Regions from separate parts of the Homo sapiens genome. Here regions 2 and 3 are each linked to region 1. Evidence: fine-mapped expression QTL. A gene starts in region 1. Each other region holds a variant in brackets. All regions are shown on one strand. Distances are between the middles of the regions. Region 1 holds the start of PTGDR (prostaglandin D2 receptor). Region 2 has its middle 47 kb from the start of LINC02319. Region 3 has its middle 39 kb from the start of LINC02319.

The links. PIP is the estimated chance that this variant, and not a neighbour inherited with it, causes the effect.
Region 2: its variant is the best candidate, but not a certain one, in a credible set for the expression of PTGDR in whole blood (INTERVAL, PIP 0.75).
Region 3: its variant is the best candidate, but not a certain one, in a credible set for the expression of PTGDR in whole blood (INTERVAL, PIP 0.71).

The regions. Positions count from the first base shown.
Region 1 is chr14:52,266,058-52,270,057 of GRCh38, reverse strand. PTGDR (prostaglandin D2 receptor) reads right to left here and starts at 2,360. Exons shown (of 2, transcript NM_000953.3): 1 at 1,398-2,360. The coding sequence starts at 2,243.
Region 2 is chr14:52,170,623-52,174,976 of GRCh38, reverse strand. No RefSeq gene overlaps it. Among named protein-coding and RNA genes, the nearest start is that of LINC02319, 47 kb to the right of the region's middle. The variant G/A (reference allele first, on the strand shown) is at 2,294.
Region 3 is chr14:52,162,690-52,167,043 of GRCh38, reverse strand. No RefSeq gene overlaps it. Among named protein-coding and RNA genes, the nearest start is that of LINC02319, 39 kb to the right of the region's middle. The variant T/C (reference allele first, on the strand shown) is at 2,129.

The sequences.
Region 1 (4,000 bases):
TGTGGTTTGCTAACTCCTGTTTTAGAGTGTGATTCTACAAATGTGAACCCTGAATCTGAGCTTGCATATCACCTGGGAACTTGTTAAGAATGAAAATTCTTTAAAAATGTCTGAATTAGAAACTCTGGGGAATGGGGTCCAGCCATCTTTTTTTCTAGAAGCCTTGCTGGTGATTCTGAGCTGGTGATTCTGAAGACCACTGCTATATGTCATCTGCGCCTATATCTACATTTAGATAGATATAGATTTATGTATTTGTTTATTTATTTTGGGGGCATACTGTTCCCACCCCTGCATGCTGATGCCCCAGACTTCTTTTTCCGCAAGCAGTAAGGCCTTCATTTAAAGGAAAATCGCTTTGTATTTCCCTTTCATTCACCATTGAAAGTAATATCCAAAATGGCTACATTCTGAGAAGAAATTTAACAACTTTCCTATTCACAGAAGTCTCAGGATTTCGAGAACGTGGGATTGGCAATGGAATTTCTGTAAGTATTGTTTTTGTTGAACAGGTACCTTGGGAGAAAGGAGAGGAGCAGCACTGAAAATGTTTCCTCAAGCCTCACCTACTCCCAGGTGTCTTGGCGGGGACTCCAGGAACAAATGCCTTCAAAATGAGGAGATAATTTCATTTCCATCGCTATCCTCATTACCAAATTGAAACCGGAGATAATGGCTTTCATGTCACCTCACTTGCCAAGATACACTCAAAACCCGTCAAGTCAGGTTGTCAAAACGACACCAGCAGCTAAAACATACAAAGAGCCTCGGCCTCCATCGCCACAATCCCTGGCGGATGCAGCACCAGAAACAGCAGCCGTGGCGTCTCAAAGTTTACGCACGCGTTTTTCAAAATTAAAACTATGCATCTGCAAATCACTCTGGCTGGCTTAAACCTCTTTTTCCCTTTCTATGCCAACACCGGGGAGAAGATCGTCCCAGACGCCATTCGCCCATTTCTGATACCACTGAAGTCATGAGCAGGTCTAACAAAATAAAACATCACCCAGCCGTCGGGAAGTAGAAGACTCCTGTTGCCAAGGAGAAACTAAGTTCTGCTCCTCCTAAGGCGCAAAAATGACCTCGAGATCTCCCCAGAAGGAAGCAGAGAGGAGGGAGTTCTGCCACATGGAGAGGGTTTTGCTGGGCTAGGGAGACACCGCCGGGCTCAGCCTTTCCCTTCCTTTCTCTAACTTTCCCTCATTTCGCTCCGCAAACTGAGTTATATCTCGGGGCTGTGGAAGGAATCCAATTTGGGGAACTCAGCAGCAAACCTTCCTGGCCCAGGGCGCAGCTCGCCTGGCGCCGCGTCCATCCCGATCCGCTCCACCCTTCCCGCCCCGCATCCGCGGCCGGACAGTCTCAGTGCCCTGCTGCCTCGGGGCCCGGGGACTCACAATTACGGGCAGAGAACACATAGTGAAGAGCACGGTCATCAGCGCCAGCAGCAGGAGGTGATCCAGCTCCTCCAGGGGCTGAGGGGACGCTTCCCTCCCGTCCGCGCGCGGCTCGGCACAGTCCCTGGTGCAGGAGCGCGGGTGCCGCTGCAGCCGCCGGTGCATCGCATAGAGGTTGCGCATGGCGCCGAGGTTGCACAGCACGGTGGCGAGGACCAGCAGCGCCATGAGGCTGGAGTAGAGCACAGAGTACCCCAGCACCGACAGCGAGCCCTCCTCGTGGACCATCTGGATAAAGCACCAGGTGCCGGGGCAGTACTGCACGAACTTCCCGAAGCCCATGAAAGGTAGCGCGCAGAAAGCCAGGGAGAAGGCGCTCACCACCGGGGCCACCAGTGCGCCCAGGCGCAGGGTGATGTGCCGTCGGTAGAAGAAAGGGTGCCCTAGGGAGAGCCAGCACTCCAGTGCCATGGCCAGGAGTTGCAGTGTCGAGGAGAGCCCAAAGAAGGACATGAAGAAGGCGAAGGCTTGGCACAACGAGTTGTCCAATGCGGGCGCAAGCACCCGCAGACTCCGGTTCTGAGCGTAGGCAGCCAGCACCACCGGGCTTAGGAGGCACTTGCCCAGCAAGTCGGTGACCGTCAGGCCACACACCAGCATGTAGAAGACCGAGGGCAGCGGGCGCAGTGGACGCCGCGAGCACCACCCCAGCCCCGAGCGCGCCAGCAGCCCCAGGGCCAGCAGGTTGCCCAGGAGGCCGGTGCTGAAGAGCACCCCGCCCATCACCGCCGAGTTGCCTTTTTCCACAGAGGTGGTGTTCTGGCAGCGGTAGAACGGCGACTTCATGGCGTGCGGGAGCAGAGGGCTGGAGTGAAGGCTGCGGAAGGGCGAGGGCCCCGGCGCCCGGGTGCTAAGGAGCCCCCGGCAGCTCCGCGCGCGGCTCGGGCGGAGAAGCTGCGCCACAGAAAAAGCTCCGAGGGCGGCGGGGTGTTCCCCACGGCAGGAACCTCCTATCTAAACTCGCGGGTCACACCCCTCTTTGAGAGGCGGGACGCTCTGCAGGGTGAGCGCCTGGCGCTGGCATTGAAGAGCGCGGAGCAGGCCAGTGAAGAGCTCGGCCCTGACGCGCTGCGTTCTCAGTAGAGACAGACTCTGGTGCCGAGTCGGAACGGCAGGAGGAAAATAGCCAGAATTCCAAGCACCCAACACCAGTCCTTCTAGCGAGGCAAGAGAAGAACTACTAAAGTGGAGGGGAAATTAAGCAGCAGCCACCTGAGAGGAGGGCAATGGTGCTGGTGTTTGAACTGGGGTGGCCAAGAACTCGAAAGATGAGCGAAGAGGGGAGGCTGAGAAAGGGCTTCTACCTAGTTGTCTTGAATTAGCTAGTCAAGGAAAGGTAAAGATAACTCACGTCTGGAAAGCCCCTGAGCCTTAGCTCCTCTTCTCTACTAGATCAGCGCAATTTGGGGCATTCACGGTCATCTCCATTGCATAGGCGAGGAAACTGAGGCCTTGGAAAGTTAAGTGATCTGCCCGTGGTGACAGAGCTACAGAAGTAGCAGAGCCGGACCTCTCACCCGATCTTCTATTTTGGAGTTCATCTGTCCTGTTCCCATGACTCCTCCTCCCAAGAAGTTGTCCAGATTTCAGGGAAGTGGTTTGTGGGAAAGCCAAGAGCCGGTGTTGGTCCTGGGTGCCATGAATCACATTGACTGTAGAGAGCTGGGGGGAAGGGCATGGTTAGCAGCACTGTTGCTGTCATCAGATAGGCCTGGGTTTGAGTCCAGGTTCTGCTCCTCACTGTGTGTGTGACCTTATGGGACTTGCTTAGCCTCTCAAGCAGTAACATCTATCTGGCCTGCTTGGCTCTTCTGAGGCATAGAAATAACACGTAAAGAGCAAGTACATAGAAAGTGCTCAATTCATGCAATCACCATGATTCTTATTTGATAGAAGGGTGTTTTGGTAGCTGATGTTTAACTGCAGTTTTTAGCATGGATTTTGAAATCAGAAAATGGTAGATTTGGCATAGAGCTTTCTCACTCCTCTGATTTGTGGCTACTAGAAAAAATTTATTCCTGTTTGGGCTTTGACTTGGCTGCATCATAAAGGCAAGGGAGTTAATTGTGATAAGCGTGATTTTATATCTTTAACTAGCATTCGATGCCCTGTGAGAGAAATTGGCTTTGAGTGTGGAATCTCAGTGGGATGACTAAGGTTTTGTTATGTAAGTGAGTAGATGATGCCTGGGCTTGAAACGGCTCATTTTTAGGCCTCATGCCAGTTCTGATGGACAGACTCAGGGAAAGAGCAAGACCCTTGGGATTTAGATGTGAAAGCCTGAAGGGTAGACAGAGAGGCTGCCTCCAGACTGAAAGTCTGGCCAGTAATTCAGGCCACAGGGTGGAAAAGAAGAATCTAAGCTTGGAATTAGATAGTTCTGAACTCCACCACTGGCTGTGTGACCCTGGGTTAGTTGTTCAACCTAATGGAATATGAGACTTATGCTGAACTTGTGGGGTTGTTGTGAGGTTGAGAAAACTTGAAGTGCTTTGGCATAGTGTAATAATAATAATAAGAGCTAATATTTATTGGTCCTGATG
Region 2 (4,354 bases), 95 kb after region 1:
CTCTACTAAAAATACAAAAATTAGCCACACATAGTGGTGCACACCCGTAGTCCCAGCTACTCAGGAGGCTGAGGCAGGAGAATAGCTTAAACCCAGGAGGCAGAGGTTGCAGTGAGCTGAGATCATGCCACCGCACTCCAGCCTGGGTGACAGAGCAAGACTCCATCTCAAAAACAAACAAACAAAAATCTCACTAAAAGAACAGTAAAGGAATTGAGAAATTAAAGTCCATGAAGACAGAAGGAAAATGGAGATGCAGCACATACATGTTTTGGCCAAATGCTAAATGGGTGAATGTTAAAATCAATGTTTGTCCAAAACCAAGGCTAACACCAAATAGCACCATCATTTGATTAAATTTCTGAGATATGAGAATAAGTGTAAAGTTTCAGTTAATATTTCAATTTTCAATTTTATTATGAAAAATTTTAGTAGTCAAATATTTGAAATTTGACATTGTTGAGCAGAAACCCAATTTTCTCAGCACTGTCAGCTGTGGAATGCTCCAAGGGTCACTATATTGCACATTGGCAATACTAAAGGCATTGCTGGTTTTAACTGAGGTGAGTAGAGTGGAAGATTTTTTTTTGTTGTTGTAGAGACAGAGTCTCACTCTGTCACCCTGGCTGGAGGGCAGTGGTGTGATCTCGGCTCACTGCAAGCTCCGCCTCCTGGGTTCACACCATTCTCCTGCCTCAGCCTCTCCAGTAGCTGGGACTACAGGCACCCGCCACCACACCTGGCTAATTTTTTGTATTTTTAATAGAGACGGGGTTACACCATGTTAGCCAGGGTGGTCTTGATCTCCTGACCTCATGATCCACCCACCTTGGCCTCCCAAAGTGCTGGGATTACAGGTGTGAGCCACCGTGCCTGGCCAAGTGGAAGATTTTAGTAGTAGTAGTAGTAGTAGTAGTAGTAGTAGTAGTAGTAGTAGAAGCATTTTGGCTAGCTCTGCCAGTGTGGGATAATTACTGATTGTAATGTTAACACTAAGTTACCAAGTCTTTTTCCCTCTCTAATAGTAACTGCCTAAAGCAGAGAGTTAACTCATCTTTGGTTTCTGCAATTAAAACTTAAATGATGGTGATAATGCAATTTCATTGAGGCAAACCACTTCCTTTAAACGAGGCTTAAATATATTTAGAAAGAGACTTAATATCACTGCCCTTCTTTCTTTTTCTTTTTTTGGGGGATAGGTGGGCAGATAGGCATTGGATGGTTTATCAAAACTTTATCAAAAGTTTTGTACTTATATCCTGATCTAGAAATGTGGCAATGGATAGATGCAATTGGCTTTGAAAGTTAGAAAATTTCTCTTTAAATTTCCATTTGTATCTCAATTTTTATTGTATGCACTCTAATTCCAGCATCTATCCTGGAATAGAAGGATAGATGGAGCTTTACAACAGGTCACATATAAAAGATACTTGGCCTCTCAAGGCACATCAGTTTGGTATACTCTATAGCATACTCCAGGATACAAGCTGCTTTTTCTGCAAACAACTGTTGGATTTTTGATCTGCTAGATTGACAGAAAAAAAACTTCCTGAATTATAATCTTCTCCATGTTGTTTACAATGTCCTAATTCTGTATTTTGTATTTGACATTTGGACATGTCATGTGTGACCACTTGGTGAATTAATGTTGATTATTGTTGACCTCTGCTTCTATTTCACTTGGCTGCCAAGAGCCTTCTGGGTCTCACACAGTTAAAATCACATTAAACCTAACTGAGGAGATATTTACATAATGGAAAGTCAGTGAAGAAAAGTGTTAGGCAATTGTCAATGACAATATGACAGCCATGATGGAGGCTATTGATTATTTGGGAGCCACAAGCATCTGATGTGTTGGCCATAGGCTTGGTTGTGTGTTCAGACAGTGATGATAGCACAGAGTAAGGTAACAGAAGTATTAGAAGTAGACAGTGAGAGAGTGGGCCCCTTGCCTTAATCTTCATCTCAATCTACCTGAATACAAGGGATTTGGAACTGCCTTGTCTACTCATTCAACTTGTTGATTTAAGATGGAATGAAAGCTGTGCAATGTTAAAGAAGCTGTTTGAACAAAAACAAGTCTTAATACTGCTTTTCTGTGTAACATTGCCAGCCTAGTAGGACCAAAATTCACCAACTGATATGCCTAGTTTTTCTGTGAGGAACTTTTGTACCTAGAATTCATAGCTTCAGCAAATTGCCAAAAAATGTTTTCTGTTTGATTATTGCAAATAGTTGGCAGTACATGGCAATTATTTTGACAAGTTTCCATTTAAATTTTTGGCCTCTATAA[G/A]AGACTCAAAATTATAAAGTGTTTTAATTAAGGAGATTTGGAAGTTTTGCTATTTGAAGTTTTATTACTAGAAAAATTGTTAATTAGTAGAAACATTTCTCCATTTTGCTGAGACCAGCTCAGTCATGGAGACCCTAACCCAGTGGCACTAGAGAAGCTAAAGACACACACACAGAAATATTGTGTGTGGAGTGGGAAATCAGGGGCCTCACAGCCTTCAGAGCTGAGAGCCTTGAACAGAGATTTACCCACATATTTATTGACAGCAAGCCAGTGATAAACATTGTTTCCATAGATTATAGACTAACTGAAAGTATTCCTTATGGGAAATAAAGGGATGGGTGTGGCTATTTATCTGCAGCAGGAACATGTCCTTAAGGCACAGATTGCTCATGCTATTGTTTGTGGTTTAAGAACACCTTTAAGTGGTTTTCTGGCCTGGGTGGGCCAGGTGTTCCTTGTCTTAATTCCGATAAACCCACAACCTTCAATGTGGTTGTCATGGACACCATGAACCTGTCACAGTGCTGCAGAGATTTTGCTTGTTTCCAGTTTTGGGGTCCTGCTCCCAGCATGTCCCCCTTCTTTGTTTTGCAAAGTGAAACAAAGGCAGCTTTGTCACAGGAGTGTGGATCTGCATCTGCAGACTATACAAAGACAAACAACACAGATTAAAAGCACAATCATCATTGAAATCACAGAGCTTCCCAGTGTTTTTATCCATTTCAATGGGTTACTAGCTGCTAATCTGTCTGCAGCTCCTTCAAGCACTCCAGTTCCTGACATTAAGGTCAGGTGTGCCTGAGATGCTTTAAATATTTGTTCTTTTAATTTTGCAATATCCAAAGACAAGTTTGTAGAGTGTCCTTATAGATGCTTTTTTATTCTTTCCCAAATTTTGATCTTGTTAAGAGCTATTAATAGTTTCCACAAAGCCTTATGTTTAGCTCCTACAACTGGCCATATCATTTGAGGTTGAGGTGCCACTGTACTGCCATGTTTCCAGATAATAGGAACTCTTGCCATACTTCTTACCATTTCTACCATCTGACCATTTTGTTCAGACCAGCTGAACACGGTGTGGCTGTGGCATGCCGACTGAGAGGTGCAATTCAAGCTAAACATCCCCTTAGGGGGCCAATCAATAATGATTCCATAGGAATCATTGCGCAGCACCTCTGCCTGTTCTGCAATGCAATCTTCCTTAACAAGTACATTCATTTTTTCTGGCCAGGTCCAATCCTGTTTACAAATAGGTTTTTGAGGGCAGTTTGCCTTAATTGTAGGAGCAGATTCATTATGATAAATGCTGATATCAGAAAGCATGTGTAACTGTGTCATAGAGTGATTACATCCAGGCATTATTGCCAGCCAAGATTGACAAATGTGCCCAATAAGTATGATTGTTCTCTGTGTCAGTCCTTGTTGAAGGAATACTCATAGCAATGGTGATCACCAGTATCATAGCTACCATTAAATTACTCATTGTGACTGGTTGTCCCGCTTTCCTCAGGTTTTCTTCTGCCATCTGTGACAGCTTCTTGATCTGTCCCCAAGTAGGTGGCTGTGTTTGACAGGTGTTGCTTGTGACAGTTGGGGTCCTCCTGCATCAGTCTCAACATGGCTGCAACTGAGGGGTCCTTGGGATCCTCCCAAAATCTCTTCCTTGGCATCTGGCTCCTGATAAGGTTTCAGATATCTTGATGGTATCCAAATCGGCTATTGATTCAGTCCTGGAGAAACACAAGCATAACCTCTACCCCAAGTTATTATTTTACATATTTCCCAACTTTTTGTTATTGGATCTCTCCACCAAACCAGTTGTTCTGCTTCTGTCTTTGCAGCTGGTTTCTGTAGATGCTGTTCAGCTGCTGATAATATCTGGCCTTTAGGCAGGCTCAAAAAATTTAAAGTTAATAATGCTAGATTCAATTGCATATGGGGTGTCCCTTAGTCCCTGTTTTCCCCCCTCTGCTTTTGCAACTGCTGTTTCAGAGAGATTCATTCTTTCCACTATGGCTTCTCCTTGAGAATTATATGGGATACCAGTAATGTGTTTAA
Region 3 (4,354 bases), 100 kb after region 1:
TGGGAGCCCACCACAGGGGGGCTCAGGCATGGCAGGCTGCAAGTCCTGAGCCCTGCCCTGTGGGGAGGTGGCTGAGGCCTGGCAAGAATTCGAACATGGCGCGGGTGGGCTGGCAGTGCTGAGGGACCTGGCACACCCTCTGCAGCTGCTAAGCCCAGGTGCTAAGCCCCTCACTGCCCAGGGCCGGCAGCGCTGGCTGGTTGCTCTGAGTGCAGGGCCCACTGAGCCCACGCCCACCTGGACCTCACGCTGGCCCAAAAGCGCCACGCACAGCCCCGGTTCCCACCCACGCCTCTCCCTCCACACCTCCCTGCAAGCAGAGGGAGCTGGCTCCAGCCTCAGCCAGCCCAGAGAGGGGCTCCCACAGTGCAGTGGCGGGCTGAAGGCCTCCTTAAGCATGGCCAGAATGGACGCCAAGGCCAAGGAGGCACTGAGAGGGAGCGAGGGCCGGCCGCATGTTGTCACCTGTCAATATCCTAAACCTTTGTGGGAACTTTGTCTTTCTGCTTGAAGCGGTTCCTTCAAACCTTGCAAATTTTTTCCTAGTCCCATACCAGGGACATACCCCATTTCATGCATCATATGTTGACTTTGTGGGGTATATAATTGTTCTGGAATTAGAACTTGTGCTCCCCATTGTTGTAATAAATCTCTTCCCCATACATTTATAGGTACAGAAGTTATAATTGGTTGAATAGTTCCAGGTTGTCCATCGGGCCCTTCACAATGCAAAATATAACTACTTTGATATACTTCAGGGGCATTACCAACTCCAACTATGTTAAATTGAGTGAGTTGAATTGGCCACATGGACAGTCAGTGCTGTAGGGAAATGATTGAAATGTCCACTCCTGTATCTACCAAACCTTTAAATTTCTTTCCCTGAATAGTTATTTCACAGGTAGGACGTTTATCAGTAATTTGATTCACCCAATAAGCCACTTTGCCTTGTTTATTTGGGCTTCAAAATCCTCTTGTCTGTTTAATTTCACTTTTCCCCATTTCCACATATGGCACAATCAGGAGCTGTGCTGTACACTCTCCTGCTCTGCTTTCCAGGGAACAGATGTAGATACAACAATTTGAATTTCACCATTGTAATCTGAATCAATTACTCCTGTATGTATTTGTACTCCTTTTACATTTAAACTAGACCTTCCTAGAAGCAATCCTATCATCCCCACTGGCAAGGGTTCACAGACTCCTGTTGGGACATTTTGCAGGGGTTCCCCAGGCAGAAGGCTCACAGCTTTTGTGCAGCATAAATCTACTGTGGCACTACCAGCTGTGGTGGGGGACAGACATTGTACAGGGGTGAAGGAATGGCCTGAGCCAGAAATGCCCTGGTTTGGAATGGGGCCCAGGATGGGCCCCTCATGGTGTTTCCTGAATTTAAAAGGAAAAGGCTCAAATGTTGATCTGGGGGGGGGGGGGTGTATTCTAACAGAAAACTGCCAAGCTTCTATATCACCCTCTCGTCTAGCTTGCTGAATTCCTGCCAGAATAGAACTGACAGCGGTCACTCAAGGAGCTGCTTGAACAGTCACTGGGGCAACTACTTTTCTCCCAGGGTCCTCCAGAAAAGAAAGATCTGGAGGGTCAGGCCACTCTTTTTCTTCAAAATAAGGAGGGGGTGCAGAAGGGTAGGGATGAACCTCTTCCTCCTTTGCTGCTTTAGCTTTAGCTGGCAAACAAACCTGGTCTGTTACTTTGTTATACTTTCCTTCCTCCTCATCATTAGTGTGAAAAGGTTCCAAGGTGGAATGAACCAGAGCCCACACTTGTCTCATTGTTACCCTGATGCTTCTGAGCTACCCTTTTTACTCAACACGGGCATTGCTTAAGAGTACTCCGGTGTCCTCCAGCTTAGTTCCAGGTTTTCCAGCCATCACTCTGGTGACCCTTCAACCTGGGTTCGAGCCTCCATGTTGGGCGCTGCTTACCAAGACCAGCTCAGTTGTGGAGACCTTAACCCAGAGGCACTAGAGGAATTAAAGACACACACACAGAAATATCGTGTGTGGAGTGGGAAATCAGGTCTCACAGCCTTCAGAGCTGAGAGCCTTGAACAGAGATTTACCCACGTATTTAATGACAGCAAGCCAGTGATAAACATTGTTTCTATAGA[T/C]TATAGATTAACTAAAAGTATTCCTTATGGGAAATAAAGGGATGGGCTGAAATAAAGGGATGGGTCTGGCTAGTTATCTGCAGCAGGAACATGTCCTTAAGGCACAGATCCCTCATGCTATTGTTTGTGGTTTAGGAATACCTTTAAGTGGTTTTCCAGCCTAGGTGGGCCAGGTGTTCCTTGCCCTCATTCTGGTAAACACAACCTTCAGCGTGGGTGTCATGGCCAACATGAACATGTCACAGTGCTGCAGAGATTTTGTTTGTGGCCAGTTTGGGGGCCAGTTTATGGCCAGACTTGGGGGCCTGTTCCCAACACGTTTTCTTCAAGTTTTTTACTTTTTATTATGATTGGATAAAAGATGTTTTATTATGCATGCTGTAGTCCAGGATTCATTGTTTTTATTTTCTTGTAAACATTTTAGGTGACAAAGTTGACATTCTGCTTCCTTCTCATTTTCACAAGATGTGAGCAATTTGAAAATAAAACATTTTCTTAAAAGACTCAGCCTAAATGGAGTGAAATAACTAAAAATTAAATATAATTCCTACAAGTTATTTTGCCTAATGTTACCAATGTCTGCGTACCAAACAATTCTACAAAGATGAGAATTATAAGTAAATTTCTATTATTCTACCTTGCATTATTATTTAAGGTCTCATAAATATTTGTTGTTTTAGAAGGATATATTTTATTTCATAAAACTCTCCGGTGAATGCATCTTCTCTTAATATTTTAATTAGCATTAATCTGTTTTCCTTTTTATTTAACTTTTCATAATTATGAATTGTTGCAGCATTTTCCTTTTGAGAAATTGGGAGAACTCAGAGAATTTCAATATATAACTGAGAGAATTTCACTCTACAAAGTACGTAAGGAAATCTTCTACTTCAAGTTACATCTACATGTTTTAAAGTGAATATTAGATATTAACAATCAGTCTTAATAACTAATTTTGTTAATATTACTAAGATTGGTAACCTCATTTGATATGATGATAACTTAGCCACCTGATCATTGATCCTGCATAGGTCTAGAGGTGACAAAATTTTTTTTTCTTTCTTTCTTTCCTTCTTTCTTTTTTTTTTTAAATTATATTTTAAGTTCTAGGGTACATGTGCACAACGTGCAGGTTTGCTACTTAGGTATACATGTGCCATGTTGGTTTGCTGCACTCATCAACTCGTTATTTACATTAGGTATTTATTCTAATGTTATCCCTCAGCCCCCTACCTCCAGACAGGCCCCGGTGTGTGATGTTTCCTGCCCTGTGTCCAAGTGTTCTCATCTTTCAGCTCCCACCAATGAGTGAGAACATGCGGTGTTTGCTTTTCTGTCTTTGTGATAGTTTGCTGAGAATGATGGTTTCCAGCTTCATCCATGTCCCTGCAAAGGACATGAACTCATCCTTTTTTATGGCTGCATAGTATTCCATGGTGTATATGTTCCACATTTTCTTAATCCAGTCTATCATTGATGGACATTCGAGTTGGTTGCAAGTCTTTGCTATTGTGAAAAGTGCCACAATAAACATACGTGTGCATGTGTCTTTATAGCAGCATGATTTATAATCCTTTGGTTATATACCAAGTAATTGGATCGCTGGGTCAAATGGTATTTCTAGTTCTAGATCCTTGAGGAATCCCCACACTGTCTTCCACAATGGTTGAACTAATTTACACTCCCACCAACAGTGTAAAAGCGTTCCTATTTCTCCACATCCTCTCCAGCATCTGTTGTTTCCTGATTTTTTAATGATTGCCATTCTAGCAGGCATGCGATGATATCTCATTGTGGTTTTGATTTGCATTTCTCTGATGACCAGTGATGATGAGCATTTTTTCATGTGTCTGTTGGCTGCATAAATGTCTTCTTTTGAGAAAAGTCTGTCCATATCCTTTGCCCACTTTTTGATGGAGTTGTTTGTTTTTTTCTTGTAAATTTGTTTGAGTTCTTTGTAGATTCTGGATATTAGCCCTTTGTCAGATAGGTAGATTGCAAAAATTTTCTCCCATTCTGTAGGTTGCCTGTTCACTCTGATGGTAGTTTCTTTTGCTGTGCAGAAGCTCTTTAGTTTAATTAGATCCCAATTGTCTGTTTTGGCTTTTGTTGCCATTGCTTTTGGTGTTTTAATCATGAAGTCCTTGTCCATGCCTATGTCCTGAATGGTATTGCCTAGGTTTTCTTCTAGGGTTTTTATGGTTTTGGGTCTAATATTTAAGTCTT